Regions from separate parts of the Homo sapiens genome. Here all the other regions are linked to region 4. Evidence: fine-mapped expression QTL. A gene starts in region 4. Each other region holds a variant in brackets. All regions are shown on one strand. Distances are between the middles of the regions.

Region 1 (7,975 bases), 52 kb after region 4:
CTCCAAATGTATTGAAGTGTTCAATGGATATGCTCCTTTTGAAATCTTATCACTGTTCTCATGTAGGCTAAAAATGGAACTATCTATAACTTTCTTGCTTCTTACTGGTAGGTTTATTTACTCATGCAGCAAATATTTGAGTACCTACTATGTATTTGGCATACACTTTGCCCTTAAAGAGCTTATAACAATATAAAAATAAGACAAATACTCAAAAAAGTTTAAGATAATACTACATATGACTAAAAGAAAGATGGAATGTGTTATGAAAGATCAGAGAAGAAAGAACTTATATCCAGCTGAGAAAATCCTTAAAGAGTGGGCAGAATTTGCTCAGTTGACGAGAGGAAATAATATTTCAGCCAGAGTGAGAGATATAAGAAAAGGCTTTGCATAGGAAAGGATTAGGAATAACCCAGTTCTTGTTTGTTTACAGGTGGATGGAAAGCCGATTTCCAGTCTTTATGATAACGCCGATGTTCCACTTGGGAAAGATACTGTACAACAATGAAAGTAGCCCTTTCTTTTGTCTTTCAAAGAATGTATTTTTAACAAACAGCCTCTGTGTGATCCTTTTGACCACACAATTTGTAGAGTTAACGCTGAAATTTTCATTAGCAACAATGAAAGCACACACAGGCACAATATTAATATAGATTAATATCAGCCTATTTTGGTCAGAAAGGCTCATTTAAATGTTTAAGAGACAGAAGTCCCAAATTGTAGTAATTTCTTCCACTAGCAGGAGGAAGCTCAGAATTAGTTTTTCTACAACACTAGAGGAATACTACTCAAAAATAAAAAGGAATTAACCATTGATACATGCAACAACACAGATGAATCTCAAAGTAATTGTGCTGAAAGAAACCAGACCCAGAAAAAGATAAATTCTATATGATCTCATTTATATAAGACTCTAGGAAATGCAAACTAATCTACACATACAGAAAACTGAGGGCAGGTACTGAGAAGGGTAGGAGGGGGGCGTTACAGAGAGGCATGAGGAAACTTTTTGGGGTGATAGATATGTTTACTACTTTGATTGTAAGGATGAGGTCGCAACTCTGTGCGTGTCAGTGGTATATTTTAATATGAACGGCTTATTTTATGTAAATTCTACCCCTATAAAGCTGTTTTTTTTAAAAAAAAAAACTTCTCTTTGAGAGACATCACCTTTGTCTTTTAAACCATCTAATGTTGAATCTAAAAGTTCAGTGTAAAGTTTAATAAAATCAGAGTGTGTATGTGTCTTAATTTCCAGGACATATAATCATAGTGATTAAGCCAAAAGTGCTTATATGATTACCTATAAACTATCATAGTTAAATGACTAAATACCCTGCATAAGGTAAAATGATTATTTTATTCCTATAGATTGAAATTGCCCAACTTTTTATTAGAGAATAATAGATTAGAGGGCATGTTGGCTCATACCTGTAAGCCCAATGCTTTGGGAGGCTGAAGCGGGAGGATCCCTTGAGGCCAGGAGTTGAAGATCAGCTTGGGCAACATAGCAAGACCACATCTCTACAAAAAAATTTAAAATAAAATGTTTATCCAAGCATAGTGGCACTCACTCACCTGTAGTACTAGCTGCTGAGGAAGCTGAGGCCTGGAGTTCAAACTGCACAACGCTGCACTTCAACCTATGTGACAAAGTGAGATCCTATCTCTAAAATAATTAATTCAGTTTTTATAATTAGGGAACATTTAAATTCAGATTATAAGTAAAAAATGGAATAAACAGTCCTGTTACCTGATATGGTTTGGATCTCCATCCCTACCCAAATCTTATGTTGAAATGTAATCCCCAATGCTGGAGGTGGGGCCTGGTGGGAGATGATTGGATCATGGTGGTGGTTTCTCATGGTTTAACACCATCGTCCCCTGGTGCTGTCGCCGTGATGATGAATTCTCACGAGATCTGGTTGGTTTAAAAGTGTGTGGCACCTCCCCCTTCTCTCTTGCTCCTGCTCCTACCATGTGAGATGCCTTGGTCCCCCTTTGCCTTCCGCCATGATTCAGAGTTCTCTGAGGCCTCCCCAGAAGCAGATGCTGCCATGCTTTCTGTACAGCCTGCAGAACCGTAAGCCAATTAAACCTCTTTTCTTATACATTACCCAGTGTCAGATATTTCTTTATAGCAGTGTGAGAATGGATTAATACACTACGTCATGCAAAATGTAAAAACAGGCAACTCACTGAGAGTAAACCTAATCAACTTGTTCATTTAGATATAAACTGTAGAGACGACACTGCCATCTAGTTGTTGAATACTGAGTATACTGTTGAAACATTCTTGACAATGTTCTATTTCTCTTTTGTAGACTTACAAGGAACACACAGAAGCCCCTAACCAATTACATCTCCTTCCTAGGAGTGTGAATGTGACTGCCATAGTGCAGCCCATGCTGCCCCTGGTAATTATATGCCTCAACCCAAGCAGGTGATTATGTATCCTGTGACTACCTCATGCTCAAGGCTCTTCCATATTACACAAACACACACACTCATACTCAAAAGCAAAACAAAAATAAAACAATCTGCTTGATCCCTGCCCTATAGAGATTAGTCTAGTCAGGGAAACATACAACTAAGCATTCGAATACAGTGTAGTGGGTGCTACGAGAGCAGAAGTACAGAAAATATGTAAGCTCCAACAAGCACCAGCAGGAGTTAAAGGTTTAGGGAAAATTAGTGGGAAGTTTATCTAAAATGAAAGCAGTGGATAAGAGGAGATGAGATTCTGCAGTGTCCTGTAAGCTATTTTATTCTAGAAGCAGTGGAAAGCTTTGAACTTTTTGAAAGACCTTAAGCAAGGAAAGGAAGTAATTAGATTTGTATGTCAGAAATAATATTCTGGTTTTAGTATACAGAATGGATTAAAAGGAGGTAAGATTAGAGGCAGGGAGAGCTTGTTAATTTAAGCAAGAGTAATTTAAGCAAGAGATGATGGTACTAAGCTAGGATTATAAACATGGAAATGGAGAGAAGTTGGAGGGTTTGAAAGATGTTCTGCAGATATAATAAATATGACTTGCTGAAAGCCAACTGTGGAGAATTAGGAAGATGGAAACACCAAAGATGACTTCCATGTTTCTGACTTCACAACTGAGTGCATGGTGGTGTCCAAAAAGTGGAGGAGCAGGTTTTGAGATAATAAAATTCATTTTTACTCCTATTGAGCTGGAGGCACTCACGGTGTATCTAAGAACAAACATCTATTTGACAACTGAATATATGGTGTGATGCTCACTATAGAGATCTGGACGCTTCAGCACATACATTATCGCTGACACACTGGGGTAGACATAAGGCACGCTGAGTCTATTTCAGGAAATGTGCCTAGACTTAAAATAGATATGCACATAGAGTGGAAGGAAGAAGAGTAGAGAAAATTGAGAAGGAATAGTTAAGGAGGCTCCCTACCTTCTCACTCCACCTCAGGCCGGCAAGCAGAACTTACTGTTACCCCCTTGGGCTCCCACTGTTTTCCATCTATGCATCTACCAAGGCATCTGTTATGTCATTGAATATACTTATCTTTCTCTCTCCTTCTACTAAATTATAAGGATCTTAGGGCAAGGATCATGTCATATTCATATTTGGATTCCCAGGACTTAACAACAGTGCTTGGCAGATAGTTTTTCTTACGACTTTTATTTAATAACTAATGATAGAAAAAATTCATTGAGTACTTTCTGTGTTCTAGGCACTTTATATACAAGGTCTGTTATACTTGGGATATATTAAGACTCAGAAAATTTAAATGACTTGTCCAAGAAGCTTCCAGGATTCAGACCTGGCTCTGTATGAGTCCATGCTTTTTTTTCTACTGTATCATACTGTCTACAACAGACTGGTGAATGAAATCTATCTTTAACAAAAGAGGAAAAAAGGAATTGCATCTTATATAAGGCACAGATACTGATTCTTATGCTAAACACAGTGAAGTCCTGTAGAGAAAATCCTTGGGTTCTGTCTCCTGGGGTTACATGCCATGTATGCCAGAAAGTATAGCAAGTAAATGGCTGCATGTCCTAAACCATAAGGAAGTTCATACAGACTAAGCAAAATGCAACTAGTTACCATTTTGCACAGCAGCTCTTGGAAGGATCCAGCAGTTACCACTACACCATGGATCTAAGACACCCTCACAAAGATAGGCCAAACACGGCCTGCGACCTTCACCTTGTAAGTTTTGCTCAAAATAACTTGGCCAAAAGCTGAGAAACTTTAGTACCATCTAAACTTTTCATTCCAATTATGCTTGGTCACTGCTCAGAAGGCAGCTCCCTCTCATCCATCAGCTTCCTCTCAATTCTTGTCTCCAAACTGTGTACTGGATAGCA[T/GCAT]CCTGTCAACACACAATGCCCTCCCTCCAACCTTTCAAGTATGGGCTTTGGCAACCTATTCCACTATAAATAAATCCACCTATACACTCAGCGCTTATAAAACCTTTAATTCCTTTGAAGTTCATTCCATTCAATTTTGTCACCCTTCACCTTGCTTTGTCCCTAATACCTACATCATGTTATTCCTTTAAACCCCAAATTCATTTAATCATTTCCTAGGAGATTTCAACATTCATGTGGAATGTCGGTTGAACATCCAACCATCACAGTTCCAACGCCAGTTCAACCTCATTCCCTTGGTCACACTCCCCACTTTGTTATGGAGCGGTTCTGGTGATTTTCATACCCTTATGCTTCCATTCATATTACCCACAGTGCACCTGATCATTAACCTCATTGAGACCTCCATTCCTATAATGCCACCTCTTCTTCCAGTTTATTCTTGATCCCGCTTCCTTCTGTATCTGGCCTCAATCTCTTAAATTGGTCATATGACCTGCTCTAGTGCTTTTCTTTTTCTTTTTTTTCTTTTTTTTTGAGACAAGGTCTTGCTCTGTCGTCCAAGCTGGAGTGCAGTGGCCCGATCTTGGCTCACTGCAACCTTCACTTCCGGGGTTCAAGCCATCCTCCCATCTCAGCCTCCTGAGTAGCTGGGACTACAGGAGCTCACCACCACACTTGGCAAATTTTTGTGTTTTTTGTAGAGATGGAGTGTTGTCCAGGCTGGTCTCAAACTCTTGAGCTCAAGCAATCCTCTTGCCTCAGCCTTCCAAAGTGTTGGGATTACAGGCATAAGCCACCAAGGCTGGCCTCGTCAGTGCTTTCAATTACCCTCCATATTTTTCCATCCCTGGGTTATCTCTTCCAACTCACATTTCTATATCCTGCCTGGCACAAATGCTCTCAATTCTCTTCTATCCTTATCTTTCTCCTATATCCATTATCCAAATCACAATTCTGGATCAGTCCTATAATCTACCTGGCCCTGTAAGCCATTCAGATGAGATGCTAGAAACAATCACAAAATCACCATACTTTCATGATTTCCAAATTCAGTTCCATGGTTAACCCTGTTCATTACTGTTTTTGTGTTTCATCAGCTCTATTCCAAACCATCTCTATTCTCTTCAAGCCTCTAAACTAACCTTTTGCACCCTCCTACTTCATAAGTAATATCACCTATCACTTCCTACTTCACAAAAAATTTGGAGAACATCTAATATAAATCTCTCCTTTCACATCTACAAACTTATAACGATTCCCTTCCTTCTAGTTTTGAGAAAAGGTGTGAAGGTGTGTTTTCCTTTTTTTTTTTTTTTTTGAGATGGAGTCTCATTGTAGTGCAGTGGCACGATCTCGGCTCACTCCAGCCTCCACCTTCCGGGCTCAAGCAATTCTCCTGCTTCAGCCTCCCGAGTAGATGGGATTACAGGCGCCTGCCACCATGCCCGGCTAATTTGTGTGTGTGTGGTTTCGTTTGTTTTTTTGAGATGGAGTTTTGCTCTTGTTGCCCAGGCTGGAGTGCAATGGTGTGATCTTGGCTCACTGCAACCTCCGCCTCCTGGGTTCAAGCAATTCTGCCTCAGTCTCCCAAGTGACTGGGATTTCAGGCATGCACCACCACGCCCGGCTAATTTTGTATTTTTAGTAGAGATGGGGTTTCTCCATGTTGGTCAGGCTGGTCTCGAACTCCTGACCACAGGTGATGGGCCCGCCTCGGTCTCCCAAAGTGCTGGGATTACAGGCGTGAGCCACTGTGCCCAGCCCCTAAATCACCTAATTCTTTAATCTGAGCCCCAGTCTCATTTCTCAGATTCTGTTTATACTAGGCTACATAAAGCTCCTGAATACACTATTGTTTCACATACCTAAATTCAACATTCTCTGAAGCTCTTCCTAGCCTATCCAAACAGAGATGAGTGCTGACTCCCAGGAGTTTAGATATTGCTGTTGCATTCACTTCTTGTCTGTCTCCTTTAGGAGCTTGTGAAAAATGTGAGAGAAAGGACAATGTCATGTACCCCCAGTGTGAAGTATAGCACCTGGAGATAGCAGGCATTCAATAACTACTGGATGGATGGAGGCATTATGAAGTTTGCCAAGTTTGTTAACACTACTAAAGGTTTCAATGAATGTAAAAACAGTGGCAGATGGGTGGTTTTCTTGACTGTGGGAAAGGTAAAATAGTATAAAGTACTAGCAAGTATAAACACAGGCATACCTCATTTTATTGCATTTTGCTTTACTGTACTTTGCAGATACTGCATTTTTTACAAATTAAAGGTTTATGGCAACCCTCCAACAAACAAGTCTGTTAATGCCACCCCAAAGTCATGTGCTCATTTTGTGTCTCTGTGTCACATTTTGGTAATTCCTGCAATATTTCAAACTTTGTATTATTATTATTTCTGTTACAGTGATCTGTGGTCAGTGATCTTTGATGTTACTATTTTGACCGTTTGTGGGCACCACAAACTGTGCCCATATAACATCAGCGAACTTAATAAATGGTGTGTGTGTTCGGACTGCTCTACCAACCGGCCATCCCCCTATCTTTCTCCCTCTCCTCAAACCTCCTTATTCCCTGAGACACAATACTGAAATCAGGCCAATTAATCACCCTGCAATGGCCTCCCAGTGTTCAAGTTAAAAGAAGACTTGTACATCTCTCATTGTAAATCAAAAGCTAGAAATGGTTAAGCTTAATGAAGAGGCATGTCAAAAGCCAAGACAGGCTAAAAAAGCTAGGGTCTTGTGCCAAACCATTAATTCTTGAAGGAAATTAGAAGTGTTACTCCAGTAAACACCTAAGAAAACCTTATTGCTGATACGGAGAAAAAGTTTTAGTGGTCTGGATAGAAAATCAAACCAGCCACAACATTCCCTTAGGCCAAAGCCTAATCCAGAGCAAGGTTCTAAATTCAATTCTATGAAGACTGAGAGGTAAGGAAGCTACAGAAGTTTGAAGCTAGTAGAGGTTGGTTTATGAGGTTTAAAGAAAGAAGTCATCTCCATAAATAAAAGTGCAAGGTGAAGCAGAAAGTGCTGATGTAGAAGCTGCAGGAGTTTATCCAGATCCAGCTAAGACCATTGTTAAAGGTGGCTATACTCAGTAACAGATTTTCAATGTAGATGTAACAAGCCTTTTATTGGAAGAAGCCACCTTAGACTTTCACCGCTACAGAGAAGTCAGTGCCTGGCTTCAAATCTTCCAAGAACCGGCTGACTTGTTAAAAGCTAATGCTGCTGGTGACTTTATATTGAAGCCAATGCTCATTTGCCATTCTGAAAATCCTAGGGCCCTTAACAATTATGCTAAATCTACTCTGCCTGTACTCTATAAATGGGACAAAGCCTGGAAGACAGCACATCTGTTTACAGCATGATTTACTGAATATTTTAAGCCCACCATTGAGATCTACTGCACAAAAAGATTCCTTTCAAAATATTGCTGCTCATTAACAATCATCTCGTATCCCAAGAGCTCAGACGGAGATGGACAACGAGATTCATGCTGTTTTCAAGCCTGCTAACACAATGTCCACTCTATAGCCCATAGACCATGGAGCAATTTCAACTTTCAAGTCTTATGATTTAAGAAATACATGTTGTAAGGCTATTGC
Region 2 (7,975 bases), 26 kb before region 4:
AGATCCAGGTAGGAGACTAGATGTGGGAGTTGGGGGAAGGGAAGCCTCAACAGAAGCTGGAGGTTTTGAGGAAACACAGGAAGAAAAATAAATTTAAGGAGGAAGATTGAGTTTATACATTTTATTTTATTTTTTATTTTTATTTTTTGAGACTGAGTCTCACTGTTGCCCAGGCTGGAGTACAGTGGTATGATCACGGCTCACTGAAGACTCAATCTCCTGGGCTCAAGCGATCCTCCCACCTCAGCCTCCTGAGTAGCTGGGACCACAGGTACAGACCACCACAGTCAGCTAATTTTTAAATTTTTTGTAGAGATGGTGTCTCTCTTTATTGCCTGGGCTGGTCTCAAACTCCTGCGCTCAAGTGATCCTCCCACCTCAGCCTCCCAAAGTGCTGGGATTACAGGTGTGAGCCACCATGCCCCACTGTTTATACATTTTAAATTACATGTTTGAGTGGTCCACAGATACTGCAAAAGAAAGATGGCCCACATGCAGCAGCCAATTCAGGATTTCAGAGGTAAAGGTGAGGCTCTAAACATGGGTTCAGGAATCAAGTAACTCTGAAGGTGAGATCGTAAAGGAAAGGGTGTTCAGCCAGAAGAGGATGGAAGAAAAAGGCTCAGGGAGTGCCTCCCTGTCTAGCTGGTCATACACCTTATCCTACGTGATTAAGTTCCCAATGTTTTCAGAATTAAAAAATGTATGCTCCATAGCACCTTTGGATGTACAATGGAAGAATACACTCTCAGAAGTAGGCAACATTTACTAATCTTACATTTGCATAAGGAGTTTATGAAAATATAACAAATCACCAAATTAGCAAGGATTTTTTAGTTCACACTTTAGAAGTACTTCAGAAATGCATGAAAATAGCAGTATGCTGTGTTTCCCAGTGAAGAGCTTCAGAGGCGTAGTATCACTTTCTGCAGCAGATGCTGACTGGCTTACTCGACGCCTCCCCATCCTCTTCTAGTGTGCTTTCCTGCTGCAGAGCCTGGGATGATAAAACCTGTGATTCCCAAGATATATTTGCAGCTTCAGTTCTAGGAAGTGGGTAGAGACAGGGTCACAGGGAGAATGGCCTTTCTTTCCAGTGTGATGTTGAAGATTTCAGTACTTCTGGGACAGCTTTGGGGACATTTTGTGGCCAGTCCTGAGTGTCATAGGTGCTGAGGAGAGATAGTGGTGACAGTCAACTGTCTACAACATCTGGGCATTTATCTTGGCTACTATTGTCCCTGTCTTTGTAGCATCCAAATTTTGGTCCCAGGTCCTCCTAAAGATAACATAAGCTACCCCAAATTCTCTAAGTTCCTTTCTTCTTCTTCTTTTTTTTTTTTTTGAGACAGAGTCTCGCTCTGTCACCCAGGCTGGAGTACAGTGGTGGGGTCTCGGCTCACTGCAACCTCCACCTCCCAGGTTCAAGTGATTCTTCTGCCTCAGCCTCCTGAGTAGCTAGGACTACAGGCATGCACCACCACTAATTAGCCCAGCTAATTTTTGTATTTTTAGTAGAGATGGAGTTTCACCATATTGGCCAGGCTGGTTTCGAACTCCTGACCTCGTGATCTGCCTGCCTCAGCCTCCCAAAGTGCTGGGATTACAGGCGTGAGCCACCGCGCCCTGCCAGTCCCTTTCTTCTTAAATGAGCTAGGTGAGATCCCTAACGTATACCAGTTCCATAATAGACTTTACACATATATTTTCATACAGTAGTAAAATTGTGTACCATCAATTTTATCACAGACTGACAAATTTTAACAATTTAAAGCTAGATGTACTTTTCTAGGATAACTTAGATGAGGTATTAGTTAAGCCCAAATAACATTGGCTCGAACAAGATGTAAGTCTTCTACTTGACTCTCACTTACTGGTCCAAGCATAACTGTCTGGGGCTGTGATGGTAGCAGCACAGCATCTGGGACCCCGGTTCCTTCTCTTTGGTTGCTCTGCCACTCCTAGGGTGTTGCCTAGGAATGACATCTGCATGGCGCACCCATTGTTCACTAAGTCCCTAAAACGGTGTTTTCCCCTGGCGCAGGTTTAAAGGCTGGTAGAAAGGCACTAACTCAGGTTCTCCCAGCAAGTTCCTCTCCTTGAAGGACTGATGCGCTAGGGCAGTGAGTGGGCCCCAAATTGCTCCCTGACCACACGGGCAGTCCCTAAACAGGGATAGTGCAATCGTCATCCAAAAGTTTTAGTCCCAATGTCCCCAAGTCTCTTCCACATTTCACCTCAAGTGTTCTTCCAGTTAGAATTGCATTCATCTACAGGTACTCAAATCCCCTGAACAGTGGGGATTGTTTTTCTCAGCAAAATCATGAGGTAAGTAGCCTGAGCTGGTGTGGTAGCTGCAGGACACTGTTCTCCAGAGCATTTTGTAATGCCAAGGCATCCATGCCAGTGCTATAGCCTCCCTCCCACGTGCCAGCCATGGACAGAGGAGGAGGAAGCAACCAGAGGAAAGGGCAGGCCTCTTTACAGGAAAGCAAAGTTTCCCTGGAAATCCCTGGCAAGCACCTGCTCATATCTCTTTGGCCAGAACTGTGATATGTGGCCATACCTAGCTACAAAGGAGGCTGGGAACTGATTATCTAGTGGGCTATGTGGCCAGCAAAAGAAACCAGGGTTCTGTTAGTAAGAAAAGAGGGAGATGTGTTACGAGCTGAATTGTGCCCCTGCCCCCCGAAAAAAGATATTGGAGTTCTAATCCCTGGTACCTCAGAATGTGACTTTGTTTGGCGACAGGGCCCTTAACAGAGGTAATCAAGTTAAAGTGAGGTCATCAGGATGGGCCCTAATCCAGTATGACTGGCATCCCTATGAGAAGAGGAAATCTGGGCTGGGTGGTGTGGTTCATGTCTATAATCCCAGCACCTTGGGAGGCTGAGGCCGGTGGATCACCTGAGGTCAGGAGTTTGAGAACAGCATGGCCAACATGGTGAAAACCTGTGTCTACTAAAAATACAAAAATTAGCCAGGCGTGGTGGTGCACACCTTTATTCCCAGCTACTCAGGAGGCTGAAGCAGGAGAATTACTTGAACCCGGGAGGCAGAGGTTGAAGTGAGCCGAGATCATGCCACTGCACTGCAGCCTGGGCAACAGAGCGAGACTCCATCACACACACACAAAAAAGAGGAAAAAATCTGGCCAGGCATGGTGGCTCACACCTGTAATCACAGCACTTTGGGAGGCCGAGGCTGGAGGATCACTTGAGCCCAGGAGTTTGGGATGAGCCTGTGCAACCTAGGGAGACCTCATCTCTACCAAAAAAAATTTAAAAATTGGCCAGGCGCAGTGGCTCACGCCTGTAACCCCAGCACTTTGGGAGGCCAAGGCGGGCAGATCACAAGTTCAGGAGATCGAGACCATCCTGGCTAACACGGTGAAACCCCGTCTCTACTAAAAAAATACAAAAAAATTAGCCGGGCATGGTGGCAGGCACCTGTAGTCCCAGCTACTCGGGAGGCTGAGGCAGGAGAATGGCGTGAACCTGGGAGGCGGAGCTTGCAGTGAGCTGAGATGGCGCCACTGCACTCCAGCCTGGGCAACAGAGTGAGACTCCATCTCAAAAAAAAAAAAAAATTAAAAATTAGCTGGGCATGGTGACATGCACCTGTGTTCCCAGCTACTCAGGGGGCAGAGCTTGGCGGATTGCTTGAGCCCAGGAGGTCGAGGCTGCAGTGAGCCAGGAGAGAAATGGAACATATTCTCTCTCACAGGCCTCACAAGAAATCAACACTACTGATACTACCAGCCTCCAGAACTGTGAGACAATACATTCCTGTTTTTTATGCCACCCAATTTATGGTACTTTTTTCCTGCAGCCTAGGAAATTAATACAAGAGGGAAGACAAAAATTGGGTAGGCAACCTGCAGTCTCTGACACATCTATTTAAAAAAATAGGGTTTATAATCATTCTGAGCAAACTATCGCAAGGACAGAACACTGCATGTTCTCACTCATAGGTGGGAATTGAACAGTGAGAACACTTGGACACAGGGTGGGGAACACCACACACCGGGGCCTGTCATGGGGTGGGGAGAGGGGGGAGGGATAGCATTAGGAGATATACCTAATGTAAATGACGAGTTAATGGGTGCAGCCCACCAACATGGCACATGTATACATATGTAACAAACCTGCACATTGTGCACGTGTACCCTAGAACTTAAAGTATAATAAAAAAATAATGTTTATATTTAGAGCAGATTTAGGGTCACAGAAAAATGGAACAGAAACCATCAAGTTCCCACAGAGCCCCTGCCCATCCACACATACACACGGCCTCCCTCACTATGTACATTTATTACATTTGATAAACCTACATTGAGACATCATAATTATCCAGTACATAGCTAACATTCACTTGTGTGTGTGTGTGTGTGAGAGAGAGAGAGAAAGAGAGAGAGAGAGAGATTGACAGGGTCTCACTATGTCCCACAGGCTGGAGTGCAGTGGAACAATGTCAGCTCACTGCAACCTCTGCCTCCCGGGTTCAAGTGATTTTGCTGCCTCAGCCACCCAAGTAGCTGGGATTACAGGCGCCTGCCACCATGCCCGGCTAATTTTTGCATTTTTAGCAGAGACGGGGTTTCACCATGTTGGCCAGGCTGGTCTCAAACTCCCAACCTCAAGTGATCTGCCCGCCTGGGCCTCCCAAAGTGCTGGTATTACAGGCGTGAGCCACTGCATCTGGCCGAGAATTCTTATCTCAGGCAAGGTTAGTCTTTCTAATTATGACACAAAATGAGAGTCATGGAAAAGACTGCTAAGTTTCACTACATTAAAATTATTTTCATGCCAAAAACCATTAGAAGCAATGCCATTTGGCAAAAAACAAACTAGGAAAAAAAAATAAAACATCACTAACTTACCCAAAATATTCAGTATCCCTACAAAAGGCAAAAAAACAAAACCTGACAGAATGTGAACAGACAATTCAACAGAAAACAAAATGTAAACATTAAATATAAAAAGATGCTCAACCCTACTCATAAGATAAATGCCAGTTAAAACCACAGTGAGATATCATTTTTCACCTATTAATGTTCCTTCCAAATGTCAAAACCTTTGATAATAGACTGTGTTGTGAGTGTGTGAGGAATCAGGCATGCTTTTTATTACTAGTGCAACCTCTGAGGAGGGCGATTAGAAACCCAAATTGCAAACACAGATACCTTTCATCTAGCAATGTCACTTCTAGGAATTTTCCCTTTGTATATACTCACACATTTGAGAAATTACTTATGTAAAATGATATCCATTTTGGTAATGCTTGTAATAGCAAGACTGGAAACAACCTAAATGTTCATCAGTAGAGGGCTATCTAAATAATGGCCAACTAAAGGAATTCCATGAGACCTAAAAGAGAATGATGAAGCTTACATATTTTAACATGAATTCATCTCCAGGGTATACTGTTATGTGAAGAAACAGCAAATTCAGGGGCCAGGTGTGGTGGCTCGCACCTGTAATCCCAGCGTGGGAACTGGGGTGGGAGGCCAAGGTGAATGGATCACTTGAGCCCAGGAGTTCCAGAACAGCCTGGGTAAGATGGCAAAACCGTGGCTCTACAAAAAGTACAAAAAATTAGCTGGGTGTTGTGGCGTGCACCTGTAGTCCCAGCTACTTGGTAGGCTGAGGTAGGAAGATTGCTTTAGCACAGGAGGTGGAGGTTGCAGTGAGCTGAGATCACACCACTGCACTCCAGCCTAGGTTGCAGATTGAGACCCTGTCTCAAAACAAAAACAGAAACAAAAAAAA[T/A]TCATGGTACTGGTTCCTTGTGATAAGAACTGAGGAGCTGGGAGAAAGAGTGGGAAGGAGAATTCACCATTTACTCTTTTGTGAATGGTTCAAGTATTGAACCATGTGAATGTATTTCCTATACAAAAATTTAACTTAAAAAAAGAAGTCCCATTACTGATCACATTTTATTGAAACATGGAACTCTCCATTTGCAGCAAGAAAAGATTAATAATGAGGAGCTGAGAAGTAATAAAATGGCTCCATATACTCTGTTAAGTTTATGGAATGAATAACCAAAACAAAAGTTGAATTGTTTTTGTAATTTAAAGAATGTTCTGGGACTCAAAAATATACAGAATCTTCTATAATTAAACTACTCAGAACAAGAAAAATACCAAAAAGCATTAGGATATACAACTTAAAAATTTTAAATGACAAGTTTCATCTGACTCAAAACACTCTGAAAAACATATATGTAAATAAATCACAAGAATCAAACTTTTGATAAAGGCAAATTAAAGCAATGTAATAATCTAAAAAATAAAACCAAAGCCTGATATTTTAAAAAAACATTTGGCCACATACATGAGTGCAACTAGCAGCTCTAGAAAAGAATACTGACTAGTTCATGCAATGAAATTCCTGACCTTGGTCTCTAACTCCTGGGGGTTTTAGTTCTGAAATATCTCAAATCTGTATTTTTCTGCCAGTGCTCCAGTTAAAGCTGTTTCTTCTAGGCTATTTCAGTAAGCTGACTGACCATGACTTCATCCCCTCACCCTTCCCATTGCCGCTGGAATTTATGGCATAAATCTAACGGTCTCACTACCTTGCAAAATGCTTTCATTAGTTACCCATTGCCTAAATAGTAAAGTTCAAATGTTTTTGTGTGGCTATCTTCTTTTTTTGCTCCCCTTCCCCCAAAATACCTTCTCCCCTAAATGTGGAAATTGCTTATTTTATCTTTTTTGGCCATTGGTCTTGGGTGGACACCTGGATCTTGCCAGGCCAATTAACAGTCTATGCTGGAAATTTCAACTTGAGACTGAGAGTTCATTTCTCTTTGAATGACTGCAGCATCCAAAAGTTCAGAAGTACTCAGTGGCCATGTTTTCTGCTAATTAAACTTAAAAAATGGAAAAATCTAGTTATAAAAGAAAGAGAAAATGCAGATGTGCAGAGAAGCTGGACCCAGAGTTAGGAAACTGTGTGCTCAATCCCAGCTCTTCTTTTAGTCCAGTCACATCCTTGTCTTCAAGTCCAGTGAGACAAGTCAGACTCCTTACATTAAAATCCCCCTTATAGGCTGGTTCAGACTGAGTTTCAGATACTGCACCCAAGCCAGTCCTAATCCCACTGCTTATGGCAACTTGGCAGTTTAACCAAAATCTACCTTGCTAGCTTCATTTCCGTGTTCTGACCACATCTCCATTCTATCACATACTCACACTGACCTAGCAGTCATTCCCCCCAAATTCAACTCCACTCTTGAGCCCTGCAGTGCATTCACCTGGGATGACTTTCTTCCCTCTCCTTTACATGGAGAATGCCTCACATTTACCCTGAGATGCTGCATAAATGCTTCCACTCATTGTGAAGCTTTTTGATTATCTACTGCTCCCATATCCAAGTCAAAAGACCACTCCATATTCTGTGCTCATTGTCCTTTGTATATGCTTCTTTGATTACACTGATCACAGTATATTGTAGAATTCCTATTTGTTCATATACTATTTTGTAAGTTCTTCAAGGACAGTGTCTATGTAGCTCCACTAACACAAATAGAGAACACATGACCCATACTTGATAAATGTTTGATAAATCAGGTTATTCCAACAAACCAAGTGCATTCGCCCTTGCCACACAGGCTGTAGCAAACGTGCTCCCAAAATACATGACGAACTTCTTAATATCTGATTAAGAAAGCAGTCCTTCATGAATAATGTCAATTTTGTGTTTGAACACAAGGGTAACTTATACGTAAAATAAACTGACCAGGGGAAGCAGAATCAACATCAGAGGCCCCCACATCCCTAATCCTATGGTGTCTAAATCAGTAACTGCAATCTTATACCTGAGACGTAGTTCGTTCTCTTTTCTCATACTTTCTATAGTTATTCATTCTGTTAAATGCTTTTACGTCTAAATACACATCAACTCCTCTTGCACCATTTGCTTTTTGCACTGAACTATTCTAAAACAAGCTGGATTACTAAAACACA
Region 3 (7,975 bases), 90 kb after region 4:
CGAACTCCTAGACTCAAGCAACCACCCGCCTCAGCTTCCCAAAGCATTAGGACTACAGGCATGAACCACCGTGCCCAGCCAACATCTTGACTTCAGCTGCCTGAGAGACCCAGAGTCTTCAGAAACATACAGCTAAGTGACTTCTGAATTCTTGACACATAGTAACAGTCAGATAATAAACGGTTGCTATTTAAAGCTGCTATGTTTTTGAGTAATTTGTTTTGCAGCAATAGATAAACAACATAGATTTTGGTACCTGGACATGAGATACTGCTGTAACAAAAACCTAAAATGTGGGAATAACTTTGGAGCCAGGGAGTTGCAAAAGGTGGACAGACTTTGAGTAGGGCTTTAGTGGAAGTTTGAAGAGCCTTGGACTATTCATAGAAGTCTAGACTTTGAGGAGGCTGCAGATGAGCCCTTAAAATGAAGTGAAGGATATGTAATAGCCACAGAGTAGCAGAAAGTTTAGCAACAGTGTTATAAAATGTGTCAAATGGACTCAGTGAGCTAACTAACTAACTGAAGGGATTTTCAGGCAAAGTGCCCAGGAAAAATGTAAGAGGACAAAGAAACTAAAGAAAAGAGACAGGGGCTTGATGGTTTTGAAAACTCTCAGTCTCTCCAGAAATGGCTTGCTGGGCAAAGATCAAAAAATATGTCAAGAGGGAAGGCAAAGGGGCTTGGCATTACAATCTTTTGTTACTCAGAATATGGTGGTGCCTCACTATTTAGTCTGAAGAAAGGCTCTCTAAAAAATTTAAGAGTATGACTCACAGATTCTCTCAAACAATAAAACTTCTAAGAACTTAAGGGTGTTCTCCCCTCCATAGAAGCTCAAGTATACGTGGATTCCAATAAGACTCACAAAAGATTCATGATGTTTATTCTATGGGCAGAAATAGTAAATCTGGAAGGAAAAGAATGACAGCACAAAATGAAAAGAGGTCTTTAGACTCTCAATATTTTACTGGTCAGAATACTGAAAAACTACTCAGTTGCAAACAACTGTTAACTTCCAAAAGAAAAAAAGGGTAATTCAGAAAGTGGAACCAGGAACTCAGAGGGCAGGGCCAAGAGCCACAGAAAATTATTCCAGTCTTGGGTCCTCATCAAAGAACTATTAAGCCATGCCCCACTGGACTTGAGGATGGACGTGGTAACTCCTGTGTGTCTCCTAATAATGTCTACAGTGGTCATCCTATGCCTGTCTCATTTTATATTGGGTGTGTAGTTGATAAATAACTTGTAATTTTAGTTAACAGGATTTCATATTAAAAGAACTATAATTGAAATGTCACACTTAAGGTTAAAAATAAAAATAAAAAACTATACTCAAGGAGCTGCTTCAGCACCTGTACCTGATTTACATGACAAGATTCTGAACTTTAAGCTAATGTTACAATGGGATAGACTTCTGAAGGCCTTGAAATGGCTAACTATATTTTGCATATAAGAATAATGTAAGCTGGGCGTGGTGGCTCATGCCTGTAATCCCAGCACTTTGGGAGGCCAAGGCAAGAGGATCACTTCAGCTCAGGACTTTGAGAACAGCCTGGGCAACATAGCAAGACCCCACCTCTACAAAGGATTTTTAAATTAGTTGGGCATGGTGGCATGTGCCTGTAGTCCTACCTACGTGGCAGGCTGAGGTTGGGGGACTGGCTGAGCCCAGGAGTTTGAGGCTGCAATGAGCTATGACTGAGTCTCTGCACTCCAGCCTGGAAGACAGAGTGAGACCCTGTCTCAAAAATTTAAAAAAAAAAAAAAACCCAAAAATGATAATGTAAATAATTTGTAACCAAAATGCAGACCACGGCAGTTAAACTTATGTCTACAAATTCTTCAATTCTCCTCCCCTCAAATATAGGTTGTGCTTGGTGACTCTTTTCTGACCAATTAGAATGTGAAGGAAGTAATGGTGTGATGTCAGGAGAACAGAACATTAAAAAGGTGTTGCAGCTTCTTCCTTTCTCTGTCATCATTAGCTACCATGTCTTCAGAAACTTTAGAAACTATGGAGAGACTAAGAACTAAGGTCTCATGCCAACAGCCAGGTTGAGTAAGCCATCTAGGAAATGGATCCCTTCAGTCCTAGCCAAGCCTTCCAATGATGGCATGCCCATCCAAAATCTCAACTACAACTTCCTAAGAGACCCTGAGTCAGAGTCACTTAGACACTTCTGAATTCCTGACCCAAAAAAAGGGTTATTTTAAGCTGCTAAATTTAGGGATTAATTTATGATGCAGCAATAGATAACATAAAGCCAATGAAAACAAATGCATTATTTGTTTATCTTTCTCCTAGTGAAGAATCTCTTAATACTAAAAACAAAACGCAAAAAAAAAAAAAAATTCTAATAGAGACCAAAAAATTACATTCTGGAAACACAAAACTATAAATGGATGGCAACATAAGCACTGACCTTTTTAACAACTGGTAACATAAATGCTACCACTTGTAGCCTTGCTACATGATAGATATAATGCATACCTTATATTTTTTCTCTCTTTCTTTTTTTCTTTGAAACAGGGTCTCACTCTGTCGTCCAGGCTGGAGTGTAGTGGCAAACATGGTTCACTGCAGCTCTGACTTCCAGGGCTCAAAAGATCCTTCCACTCCTGCCTCCTGAGTAGCTAGAACTACAGGTGCTCACCACCATGCCTATTTTGTTTGGTTGGTTGGGGTTTTTTTTGTATTTGTAGAGACAGTTTCACCATGTTGCCCAGGCTGGTCTCGGACTCCTGGACTCAAACGATCCACCTGCCTTGGCCTCCAAAAGTGCTGGGATTACAGGTGTGTGCCACTGCACCCAGCCCATACCCCATACATTGTATTTCATTTGATGTCCTCAACAACCTCACGAATTAGAGTATAATATTATTTTATATACGAGAAAACTGAGGTTTCAGAGGAAAATAACTCAGAGTCATGGTAAAAGGCAGAGCAAGGATGTAAATCTACTTCACTTGGACTCCAAAGTCTAGGCTTCTTCTATGCTATACTAAACTCCAGATGATTAAAAAGACAAATGTAGGCCGCATGTGGTGGCTCACACCTGTAATCCCAGCACTTTGGGAGGCCAAGGTGGGTGGATCACCTGAGGTCAGGCGTTCGAGACCAGCCCGACCAACATGGAGAAACCCCGTCTCTACTAAAAATACAAAAATTAGCCAGAAGTGGTGGCAGGCGCCTGTAATCCCAGCTACTTGGGAGGCTGAGGCAGGACAATTGCTTGAAACCAGGAGGCAGAGGTTGCGGTGAGCCAAGATTGTACCATTGCACACCAGCCTGGGTGAAAAGAGCGAAACTCCATCTCAAAAATAAATAAATAAATATTAAAATTTATCATGAAGCATTATTAGTACTACCTCTATAGAAAAAAAGGCAGCAAATACACTTTTGTTCCTACTAATCACCACTGTTTCAGCAACTCTAACCATACCAGAAGACATAAGGGGGAAAGGTATAAATATTGAAAGAAATAAAACTACTGCCATTTACAGATTAACATACTGGCCTACATAGAAAATTTTCAAAAATCAACTGAAAAATGATTCAACCTAGTATCAGAAACTTTCTGGAAGACAAGCTAATTCTACCGTGTATGCATAAGCAAAAATCTGCATGTAAAAACACGAAAATTCTAAAGACACAGTGTTAGATTGAGAAAAATGGATCATAACAACAGAAACCTATCTGTGTACTGATGTCAATACCATGTAGTTTTAATCATATCTTTAATATATGTTAGACCAAGAAACCATGCCTATGACCTACTACATTATTTTTTTCAGAATTTATCATGATAAAGGTAGCATTTGAAATCAGCGAGGAATACAAAAACCTACTCAATAAATATTACAGAGGAAATAGCAGTCTATTTTGGGGAGGAAGGGAGGTGGAAAGCCACCCTCCACCTTACAACGTATATAAAAATTAACTCCAAATGTTTAAAGAGCCAAATCTAAAAAA[T/AT]TGCAAAGCAGAAGTATTAGAAGAAAAACACAGAAGATATTCATAAATATATTTTAAATTTTTAAGTAGAAAAAGCCTTTCTAAGCAAGACCTAGAAGCCACAAAAAAAGACTAAATATTAAAAATTAAAACTTGTATATAATGAAAGATACTCATCTTAAAGGATAAAACCTAAGTGAAAAAAAGAAAACATATAATCCACTCCATTAAAAATCTAGAAATTGGTCAAACATTGTGGCTTATGCCTGTAATCCCAACAATTTGGGAGACCAAGGCAGGAGAATCACTTGAGCCAAGGGGCTCAAGACAAGCCTGGGCAACATGGCAAGACCATGTCTCTACAAAAATAAATTAGCTGGGTGCAGTGGCACGCACCTGTAGTCCCAACTACTCAGGAGGCTGAGTTGAGAGGACTGCCTGAGCCCAGGAGCTCAAGGCTGCAGTGAGCTATGATCGCACTAGTGGACTCCAGACTGGGCAAAAGTATGAGATCCTGTCTCAAACAAAACAAAACAAACAAACAAATAAAATATATTAATTGTAAACTAGATATTTTGCCCAACATACAAAAATGTAAAAGAACAATAACCTTCAGAGCTGGCAATAATGTAAAATAAAAGAAAATCTCAATACCCATGTTGGTGGTAATAAAAACTGATGAACCTTTTATCCCAAATTCTCATATCCTTCAACCCACCGATTTCCACTTCTAATAATCCATGCTAAATAAATATGCACATAATTATGTACAAGGACATTTACTATAGTACTATAATGGTGAAAAAATTCACATAGATTCCTACAGTCACTAAAATGTTAACAGTGAAAATAATAATTATGATATGCAGACATGGAGCAATACTATTAAATGGGGTAAAAAGTCTAAGTTGCAGAACACTGAGTATGATATAAACCCAATTATGGACTAAAGAAAAACAAATCAAACAAGAAACCCTGCAAAGAACCATCCTGAAATGCATGTGTATATGTACACATAGAACTCTGGAAACTAGTTGTGCATAAAGGGAATTGATCCTTTCACAGGGATAATTGCTGGAATGAAGAATGGGTGGGAGAAAAGTGAAAGGGGATCTTCATATTTGCTAAGTATACTTCTGTATTAATAGTCTCAGCTTTGAAAAGTTAATTGTGTATTATTTGTATAATTTGAAGAAGAGAAGGAGGGAGGCAGAAGAATAGAAAGAAAAACAAAAGAAGCCAGAGGGTCATAGCTCTCAACTTTAACAGTAAATTGTCCAGCAGATTCTTCTTACTGGTGTTTTCTTCTAAGTTGAAGCAACACCAACAGGTAGAAAGAGATTCAAGTGATATCTGTACAAAGGCTTCAGTATGTGACCTTAGAAATTTCTAAACTGTCCTTAGGCAACAGGAAGTAAAACTTAACGACAAATTAGCAAAATAATTCAAAAGCTGTTTAGCAGGAAGAAGGATATAGAAAGTAGCCAATCATATCCTCAAAAAAGAAATAGGCTTAAAAGAAAAAAAAATTAAACACACTTTTTATGCCCCAATTCCTACAACATTTTTGCCATGAGTAAGGCACAAAATTCATATTTTTGTACGTATGAGATCACTCATTCTCAGGTTCTGTCCCAAATAACTGTCTAAGAAAGACTTCTCCCTAGTCATTCCGATACCCTACTATAAAAACGGTACATTAAAAATGAGTCAAATGATAAGTCACTGTGCAATTTTCCTAGCTTTATCCCAAGCTGGTTTTTAATGTTCAAGCAATATTCATTTTTAGTAGGTTAATTATAAATTACTATTAAAAAGAGGAATAGGCTGGGAATAGTGGCTCATGCCTGTAATCCCAGCACTTTAGGAGGCCAATCCCAGCACTCTGGGAGGCCGAGGTGGGCAGATCACTTGAGGTCAGGGGTTCGAGACCAGCCTGGACAACATGGTGAAACCCCGTCTCCACTAAAAACACAAAATTAGCCAGGCGTGGTGGTGGGCACCTGTAATCCCAGCTACTCAGAAGGCTGCGGCAGGAGAATCGCTTGAACCTGGGAGGTTGCAGTGATCCGAGATCATGCACTGCACTCCAGCATGGGAAACAGAGCGAGACTCCATCTCAAAAAAATAACTAGTAATACTAATAGCCAACACTAATGTAGAATTATAATACTAATTATACAATTAGCAATCTAGTACCTGTAAAATAGTTAGCAATTTATAATTTTGGGTAAACCAGATATTAAATGTAAAACTCATAACATGCAAACTTCTTAAATGCCAATGAATAACTGCAAATTAAATTCTTGTTTAACTTTGGAAGCATAAAAGTAAACATTTTTCTTTTGTTGTTTAGAGAACCTTGTATAATATCTTTCCTCGTGGTGCTCAAGACATGGAGCAATACTATTAAATGAAAAACATAATACACATAAATACACATAAACACATCAGAGCACAAGAAGAACTCTGAATATTATACCTGTATCAGCTTCGTGTTCTTTATTCTCATCTGTAAGGGGGTTGTCATGAAGCTTCAAATAGATCTCTATAGCAATTCTTGCTGCCTTGAAGTAAAATGGATGCTGTCGAAGTACATCTTCTAGTTTTAATAAGTCCACATATGATCTAAGGGTAATCTTCCTCATACAGTATGTATGAAAGTCAAACTGGTCATCAGTGATTTCTATAAAATGCTAACAAAATTATCTTTTTATTATTATACCGAAGTACAGCAATGGCTAAGAAAACTATAAAATCAAAGCATTGGAATACTTGTTACTTTGGCATGAAAAAAACTAGTAAAATTTTAAAAAAACAATTACAATTATTCAACAGGAATATTTTGCATTTCAAATAAGCAAATACAGTTAGCCATTGTCTAGCACAGGATATGGCATACTGCAGGCACAGAATCATTTGTTGAAAAAGGAAGCTTTAAAAATGTTTATTCATTATCCCTTCCTTAATTATACTTAAAGCTATTGTGACAACATCAAACATAATTTATTTACATAGTAGTGCAAGTAGACTCACATGTTAAACATTGAGTTTTTATATTTAGAATCATTTGCAAAGGATTATAAGATGTATTTGATAATTTTTTTTTGAGGATACAAATCTGAATCCTATGCAATGTGATGCTGGTATGTGGAAAAGAAATCAATTAGCAAGTAAGTCAAGCAATCAGGAACTTGATGCATTTCAACTAAGCTTTGGTATTCTATACTTGACAATATTGCAAATGTGAAATTAGTTATATAAACTATGTTTATCTGTGTAAAACACAAAAAAGAAAAACCAACCACTAGTCATGGAAATGAGTCAGACGTGAAGAGAATTAAGAAAACAATTTTATCAAACAGCATGAAATTAGATAAGCTACAGAAGAAATATTGTGAAAAGTCTTCCAACATTTATATCTTACCAAGGGTATATGGCATCATCAATAAATTCTACAATGAACAGGGTCCTAGGAGTACTTTAATCAGCTGTGTATGTACTACTAAAGCGGCAGCAGCAATTTGGAAGGTTCAAAAATCAATAAAAACATAGCCAAGATACAAATTTTCCATAAAGTTTTTTAAAAAAGAGTTCTTACCACAAGACAATAGAGACCCTGGCTGAAAATGCAGTCTATATTTCCAGTATGAAAACTGAAAAAAGTGAATACTGATTTTAAAAAGCACCTACTATGAATTATAAAGAAATAGAAGAGAAAAAAACTATGAAATTTGTCCAAAACCATCGACAGAATAAAACAAGAAAACTTTTATGTAGAAGGTACTTACTCTCTCAATCTCATGACATTTCTTAAGTGCTTCACCAAATTTATTCATTGCTTTATAAGCCTGGGCACATTCTGTTTGGAACCACATGCACTGCATTTCATTCAAATTCTCTACCGCTGATGTTCCTTCCTATACAGAAATCAAATATTTTCAAGATCACTTTTTATCATAGACATCATTCTACCACAGAATTTTAAAAAACAAAGATGTTAAGCTGATTGGGACTCTT
Region 4 (7,975 bases):
AATGGAGAATATAATATAAAGGGCACTTGAGTTAGGGGAGATAAATCTTGAAGTACAACATTAATCGGGCATTTTGGCAACAATGTACAAAATAGATTAATTGAGGACTGGGAGATCAGTTAAGCTGCTGTAACTGTTAAGCTGCTGCAACAGTTCAAAGAGAGGTTAAAAAAAGGACTTGAACTAGAATTTTGAAGACAAGACAGTTAATAGAAAGTGTGCAGGTGGAAAACCAATTGGACTCAGAGCAAAGAGAGGGGTGAGAGTACAAGGATAAGAAGGATTAAAGTAGTACAACCTAGGTGAATTTTGAATTTCATATGATTTTCATGTCATGAAATCTTGATATTTTCCCTAAACATTAAAAAATGTAAAAAATCATTCTTAGATTGTGGCCATGTAAAAACAGGCAAAAGACCATTTTTGGCCCTCAAGCATAGTTTGCTGACCCTTGTGCCGTATCATAATTCTCTGTGCTTATCAAAATGTCTTCTTTCCAGCAATTACTCATTAAATATTTGTTTTACCAGTGTGGGGAGAGGTCCTGATTATTTTCCTTTAGTTAATATTAACATTTTGCACTTAACATGGGAACATTTCATTTCTACCGCTACAAAAAAGTAAGCTACTAAAATGTTCAAGTAGGACCTGCTGACCTCTAATGGGAGGCCGGATTAAATACAACACCAGGCTTTAATGGGTTGGTGTGTCTGCCACTGGAAAATGATTGTGCTAAAGGAATACAATTAGTCATGAAGGGGATATACACACGAGGAAGGAGCATAAGGATTAGAGTTAGGAGTCTCAATTTAAAAGCCGAATGTATTTGTATTTAAGGAATTTAATTTTATAATTTTATTCGACTTCCAAAATTTTGCAAACAAGATTTTCCTCTTTCAACTACCTGCACATACTGCTTAGGAATGGATTAGCAGATATAGGCTTTCTTAAATTTCATAAAACATTTTAACGGATTCTGAAAGGGCACTGTTGTTAAGTCATGCTTTCTGAAAATTTTCTAGTCCATGATTATCAAAACATTTAACGCAATATCTCATTTTTATCAAAGAAATAATGTCTAGAATGGCATTTTACTAGTAAAGTAATAGAGCTTTCCAGCTTTGAGATGAAAAATTAGGAAAAATGTCATTTTAGATCAGGCTACAATTTTCCAAAGACGTAATATGAACATTTCAGCAGCACTCAAGATGTATTACAGGTTAACCAAAAAGCAGCAGAAGCAGCACATAGAATAAAGCTCTTTATATCACTTTTCAGTTTTCGAAAAAAAGGGCACTAAAAAAAATTAAGCTCTGTGGTTTTAAAAAATGCCCAACATAGCTATATCTTTTCCTACTATAGAAACCTCAGAACATGTCTGTAGTCATTTCAACCACAATAAAAATCTCTCTCAAGTCTCACCATTGGTGGCACAAATCAACGGCTAGGGCCTTAGAAGAAAAATGATCTCAGTATTCAAGTCCATATCAATGTAACAAGTTAGGCTAAAGTTCAGTAGAAATAATCTCCCCAAAAAATATCATCTCCTTGCTCTTCCCAACCAGAATTATCAACTCTGTGCTCCCAGATTCGTCATACCTGTGGTTCTGTCTTATTTATCACTGCCAGCACTCACCTCAGTAGTTAGGTAATTGACTTTATACACTGCACATGCTTTATATTTTTTCAATACTATTATCTCTTAAATTTGCACCTGATTCATCTGTTATCTTTAAGTATAAATGGCAACCCAGGAACAGATAAAGGGCCCTCAAATCCCAACTCCTCCCCCACCCTCATTCTCTCCACTTTTGAAAGAATTTCCTACTTCCGTTTTTGTTTTTGTTTTGTTTTTTAAATTTCTCTCCCCTTAGCTGTCTACCTATGCCCTCCACTATCTCTGCTTTCAACTTTGGGTGTACAACTGCAGAACTAATGGTGGCAAACAGGAAAAATAATGTTAAGCCACCAGGAAAGACAAAGAATCTTTTTAAAGGCACCAACTATGAACCAGGTGCTTCATATATGTCCTCATCTGATCCTCACAGCAGCCTGATAAGGTATCATGATCCCAGTTTTTCGGAAGAAAAATACAGACTCTGAGAGGTTAAAGAATCTGCCTAAGGTCCAGGGTGACCAACTATTTTGGTGTGCCCAATACAGGGGGTCCCCGGGATGTGAGACCCAGTTTTAAAACCTGGACAGTCTTGGGCAAAGTTGGTCACCCTAGTAAGGACACGCAGCCCATCCCTACCCTTTCGTAGGTTCAGATATGAATCCAGGTTAGTTGGGCTCCAAAGCCCACGTACTTCCCAGATTCCTGCTTCTCCCAATCTTAACTCCCTTGGAACTTCAGAAGCTCCATTATTTTTCACCCCAAAGGCTTCTGGGCCAAACCTAATTCTGGTGAAAAATGTTTAGCCTTTTATTCTATCTTTTCTTCTGCAAGTATACAAATCTTTCTAAATTCCCTAATACAAAGCAACTCCAAAACCACCACTGAGAGCTCATATGGGACATGAAATACTAATGTGAAAAATTAAAAGACAGAAGCACCAAAGAAAGGTTAATTTCTTTTAACCCAGCTTACTTCACCTCTACCATCATTAGCAGTATAACCCGTTGGGGTGGGGGGCGATGATTAGGGAACTGAAAAATAAATTGTTCTTGCCTCTAAGATACGAGGGTAGGAACGTCTAAAGCAAGCCTGTTCTCCCACCACTCCCCATCCCCACCAAGAGACTGAGATAAAGACGATCGCTGATTTAAAGCAGTAGTATAAGGCAAGGTGGTTCCACCTATGTTTTAAGGAGTGGCATCAACAGGTGGCATTTAGTGGTGGCTTGCTATGAAGGTGTGTCTAAGGTTTATACCATCAAGAGGCCTAAGCCTTGTCATTGATCCTCATTCCACTGTTAGATTCCAACCCCTCAGAACTTCAAACCTGCCCTGGGGCCTATACTACCTTCTCCACTATTACTGTCACTCAGTGTCCCCAGTCCCAGGGACCAAAAATAACGACTTAAAGGGAATAAAGAATTGGGCGTGTGTCTGAGGTGGCATCATGAGAAATGCTTTTGGCAACCTGAGTAGGAACTATCACATATAGAATGTTTCTGCAGGAAAATAGATTTTTCTAAAATCAGTATCATAAAGAAACTACTACAGCAAAACTGTATGCAAGAGAATACCTAAGTACTTCCTCAAAGGCAATAGGCTTTACTTCCACAACATCTAAGGCACTGCTCGAATGAATGTTTAATAACTATTACTGATTAAATGAATTTTCCATTCTCGCGCAATTTCACTGTTTTTCCTCCGTTCATATTTGACTGACTCCCAGCACACGACACACACAGTAAATGGGTCGGTAGATAAGCCCTACACTCCTGAACTCAAAGTGTGGTCCACGGACTAGCTGCACCTGCATCATCAGCGAGATTATTAAATCATAGCCTGCATTTTCAAAAACAAGATCCCCAGGTAAATCGCATGCACAATGAAGTCTGAGAAACGCTGCCTTAGAAGTTTGCAGTATTGCAATCCTTCCAATCCCCAACTCCAATCTCATCAGCGTGAGAAAAAAATGGAGCGCACACACACCGTGCACACGGCCAGCGACCAGCCCACGGTGGGGTTGGGACACCTGTCACCCTGTCCTCCCCAACAGTTCCCCATCCGCTCACCTTGATGCGCTCCCCATCAATCTCCACCGCTCGTTCTCGGAAATCCACCCCTATCGTGGCCTCGGTGCGGTCGGGGAAGCGGCCAGCGCAGAAGCGGTAGGTCAGGCATGTCTTGCCCACATTGGAGTCGCCGATCACGATTATCTTGAAGATGCGGGAGCGGGCAGGAGGCAAAAACCCTGAGGCCCCTGACACTGCCCCGCTGGACGAAAAGCTTGCCTCGAGCGACGACTCCATCTCCTCAGCCATTCCCCCGACCCGCCCCAAACTGAGGCGGAGGAAAGGAGACACAGAAAGGCTGAGAGATTACGCCACCGCAAGAGCGCGCGCCCAGCCGGCCAGTTCGGCTGCGCAACTTCCCAGGAGCCACCGCCCACCAGCCCCGAGCGCGCCTGCGCACCTTCCCGCCCCGCCCTTGCCCGCACAGGTGTGGCACCCGCCCGCCCCGCCGCACGGAGCCGCCTGCCCGCGGCCACACGCCAGGCGTCACTCGGGCTGGCGCCGGTCTACCTAGGCAGGCGTGGGACCTGTCGGGGGCTTCACGGCAGCGCGGAAGGCCAGCCTGCAGAGAGGCTGGGCCCAGCGCCCTGACTGACCCAGCCCCGCCACGTCCAAGGTTCCCGCCCTCTGGAGGAAGCCGCGCAATCACTCCGGGGGCGGGGAGAGACAGACAACTGAGAGGAAGGAGGTACCACGGGCACTCTCTCGCGAGAGGGCCGCAGAGCCGCCTTTGACGGGGGCGTGTACCTGGAGAGCAACGGTAAGGACGGAGCCGACGGCTCCGGCGTCGGGTCGGTTCCGGCATCGACGTATCGTTTGGTCGCCCCAGAGAGGAGACAGGTTTCTTCAGCTTGCCGCTGAGGATGTGGCATCGGCTGCGCTCACCGCCGCCGCCTCTGTGAACTGCGGGAGTTGGGACAGCGGCCAGGGCTAGATGGGTGGGACGCGAGTCCTCGCCGAAAGCTTGCCCTGTGCGGGGCGCACTTGGAGGCGAGCTCTGGGCCGTGGCGAGTTTTGCAGCCTAAGGTCTTGGCAGGCGCATTGCTGTGGGCTGCCGGAGAGCAGGCTGGAGTTCGAGACCGCCCACCGGAGAGCAGGCGAGAGTTCGAGGCCTAGGTACAGCGCATTTCGCTAGGCATCCCCAAGAATATCCGCGTGATCCTTGTGGCCAGAGTTTGTTGAGCTAATATCCCCAGCCCAAACAGTAGAGCACATCACATGTCGGCCACCTGGGAGCGTTGAACCTGGTAGTTACTAGGCGCCCCTGGTGGAAATAAAACTCATTATGCCCTAGTTATGTCTTAGTGCCTGGGTGACGATGATGTAGCGGTTAAAGATTAACTGAGCGCACTTAGAGGTTGTCTTTGTCTACCTAAGGAAAATATCAATAGATTAAACCCCCAACCTTAAAGAATCTCCGTGAATTTTTCTGAGGAAACGTGCAATATTGTCATACAAAAGGCCCCAAATATGCAAACATTGCTTTTTGTTAAAAGTTTGTTTTGTTTTGCAGTGACATCTGTTTGAGCAGATGAATATGCCATTGGGAAAGTCAAGGACTGTCGGAGAGGAGGACATGGCAGACCTTAACTAAAGTGAGGGGGACAGTAGAGCACTAAAAGTTCTAGGAAAGGAGATGAACTGCTTATTCCATCAGATGAAAATATAGTCAGAACAGATGAGTAGTAGAACTTAAACATGCCCGGAGTTGCCAGGAATTTGCAAAAGCCTTGATATAATTCCTGTTGCTGTAGAAAGACTTTCTACAGTCACTAATATATCAAGTTATGTTCACTAGAAAAAAAGTTTACTTAGTTTATAGAAATGGGCTGAAAAATCCTAATTACTTATCTGTGAGGTTATTTTCATGAAGGTTAATCATCCAGAAACTATTAGAGAGCCTCGGAATATATTTCTTCTAATCTGCTCTACCTATCCCATTCAAAGGAGGGAATCTGAAGATTTAAGGACAAAGAGCAGTTGAAAACTCAGAGCTGTGGTTAATGGGAGAATTTCAAGGATGGTGAAAAAAACTAACATCATTGCATCCCTGTTTTTTGTATTCTGGACTTTTTAGTTTAGCTCTTGGTAAACTACATCAGAAATTCTTTATGCTAACTCTAACACACATTTTGGGGTATTGCTAATTTAATCTTTGAATACTGTTTTTGCTGTTTCATGATTATATGTTATGTCCTACCAGCTAGATTGCCAACTCTTGACTACTGACTGGAAGTTTATTGTTTATTCAGCAAATAATGAATTAAGTCAGTGAAGTGAGAGATTTCGTGTGTAAGGATTGTTAACTTGAACATTTCACCAGTTACACACAGTTCAGCCCTACTTAAATTTTAAAAATCATTGTTGGCACTTGACATTGTTATGAGGAGTTTTGTATTTTCAACTTGTATTTTGAGAGTGTCCTCATGTGACTGAAGTATGTGCTACTCTTCTTAATTGAATAACCCCAGAATCTCCAGAATTGATAATTGGAGGAAATTCTACTGTTGGAAAGAATGGATGGATTATACAGCCCTGTTTTTTGACTGTTCATTTTGTCCTTGGAGTCACTACCACTTGGCCTCAAAGTGTGAACATGTAACCCTTTCCTTAATACTTTGCTACACAGCTGAGCAGAAACTGTAAATTTGGATCCTTTGTCAGTACAACTTAAAATGGAACAATTTCAATGGCTTAGGGTAAGATAAGTATGTAAAGATACTTTTGTAATAGAAGAAAAAACATTGGATATTAAAATCACACAGTAGTACCTGGGTGTGGTGGCTCATGCCTATAATCCCAACGCTTTGGGAGGCCAAGACAGGAGCACTGCTGGAGGCCAGGAATTTGAGACCAGCCTGGCCAACATGGTGAAACCTCGTCTCTACCAAAAAATACAAAAATCAGCCAGGTGTGGTGGCACATGCCTGTAATCCCGGATACTCGGGAGGCTGAGGTGGGAGAATCGCTTGAACCAGGGAGGTGGAGGTTGCAGTGAGCTGAAATCGCAAAACTGCACTCCAACCTGGGCAACAGAGTGAGACCTCCTGTCTCCAAAAAAAAAAAAAAAAAAAAAAAAAAGTGGGTGTGGTTGTGTACACCTCTACTTCCTGCTACTCAGGAGGCTGAGGCTGGAGGATCTCTTGAGCCCAGGAGTTCAAGTCTGCAGTGAGCTATAGTTGCACTGCTGCACTCCAGCCTGGGTAGCACAGCGAGACCCCCATCTCTAAAACATAAAAGTAAACAGGCTGGGTGCAGTGGCTTACACCTGTAATCCCAGCACTTTGGGAGGCCGAGGAGGGTGGATCATGAGGTCAAGAGTTGAGACCAGCCTGGCCAACGTGGCGAAACCCCATCTGTACTAAAAATACAAAAATTAGCCAGTCGTGGTGCCAGGTGCCTTTAATCCCAGCTATTCAGGAGGCTGAGACAGGAGAATCGCTTGAACCTGGGAGACAGAGGTTGCAGTGAGCCAAGATCATGCCATTGCACTTCAGCCTCGGGGACAAGAACAAGACTGTGTCTCAAAAAAAAAAAAAAAAGTAGAAAACAGAATAGCATAAGGATAATCTTATATACAAAATAAGACTACTCAATTTCTGAATTTTTTTTTTAACTAGATATGCCACCTCCTGATGACAGTGCCCATTTCGTAACTTGTCTTACTCAGAAACAGCTCTTAGATAATTTTACTCTTTAAGTTCAGGTCTGAGCACAGAGGACAAAGAATTCCCTTGATTGCCTATGAAAGAAAGGATTCTCAACCTTGGCACTATTGACATTTTAAGTCAGATAATTCTTTGTTGTGGAAGGTTATCCTGTGCATTGTAGGATGTTTATTTTATCAGCATCCCTGGCTTCTACCCAGTAAATCCCAGTAGCACCCCACCACCAACCAAAACTGTCTCAAAATGTTGCTAGATGCCCCTTGGGGACAAAAATCCTCTCCCTCCCTCCTCCTTGAATGCCACTGGCACTCCTTGAGCCTACAGAAGGGCTCTTCTCACAAGTTTGATACCCTGTACCTCCCAGTTGATAGTGGGAATTACTTCTCCTTTGAAGACACAATTCCAGTTACCCTGAGAAGTATGGCATTGGCCTTGCTGGCCTCCACCAAATTACTATATCACTGTGTTTGGTAACCCCAGACATCATACTAGGGCTTTAATTTCAGTATATAAATAGTAAATTAGTATCCTTGTATAGGTTAGCTTAATGAGTTTCAGAATTCTTCAAGTCATATCTTCATAGGTAGGATCACTGTGGAGTTAATGGCATTTGAACTATGT

Evidence for each region.
Region 1: its variant is fine-mapped to the expression of RAB33B-AS1 in whole blood (TOPMed, PIP above 0.99).
Region 2: its variant is fine-mapped to the expression of RAB33B-AS1 in whole blood (TOPMed, PIP above 0.99).
Region 3: its variant is fine-mapped to the expression of RAB33B-AS1 in whole blood (TOPMed, PIP above 0.99).

Annotation. Positions count from the first base shown.
Region 1 is chr4:139,397,950-139,405,924 of GRCh38, reverse strand. No RefSeq gene overlaps it. Among named protein-coding and RNA genes, the nearest start is that of RAB33B-AS1, 52 kb to the left of the region's middle. The variant T/GCAT (reference allele first, on the strand shown) is at 4,353.
Region 2 is chr4:139,476,148-139,484,122 of GRCh38, reverse strand. It overlaps RAB33B (RAB33B, member RAS oncogene family), which reads right to left. Exons shown (of 2, transcript NM_031296.3): 2 at 7,514-7,975. Among named protein-coding and RNA genes, the nearest start is that of RAB33B, 26 kb to the right of the region's middle. The variant T/A (reference allele first, on the strand shown) is at 5,772.
Region 3 is chr4:139,360,400-139,368,374 of GRCh38, reverse strand. NAA15 (N-alpha-acetyltransferase 15, NatA auxiliary subunit) reads right to left here. Exons shown (of 20, transcript NM_057175.5): 13 at 7,747-7,875; 14 at 6,438-6,651. Among named protein-coding and RNA genes, the nearest start is that of NDUFC1, 62 kb to the right of the region's middle. The variant T/AT (reference allele first, on the strand shown) is at 3,977.
Region 4 is chr4:139,450,156-139,458,130 of GRCh38, reverse strand. It overlaps RAB33B-AS1 (RAB33B antisense RNA 1), which reads left to right and starts at 4,090. Exons shown (of 1, transcript NR_159964.1): 1 at 4,090-6,456. It overlaps RAB33B (RAB33B, member RAS oncogene family), which reads right to left and starts at 4,010. Exons shown (of 2, transcript NM_031296.3): 1 at 3,687-4,010. The coding sequence starts at 3,935. RefSeq lists enhancers at 3,713-3,762, 4,383-4,722 and a silencer at 3,983-4,312.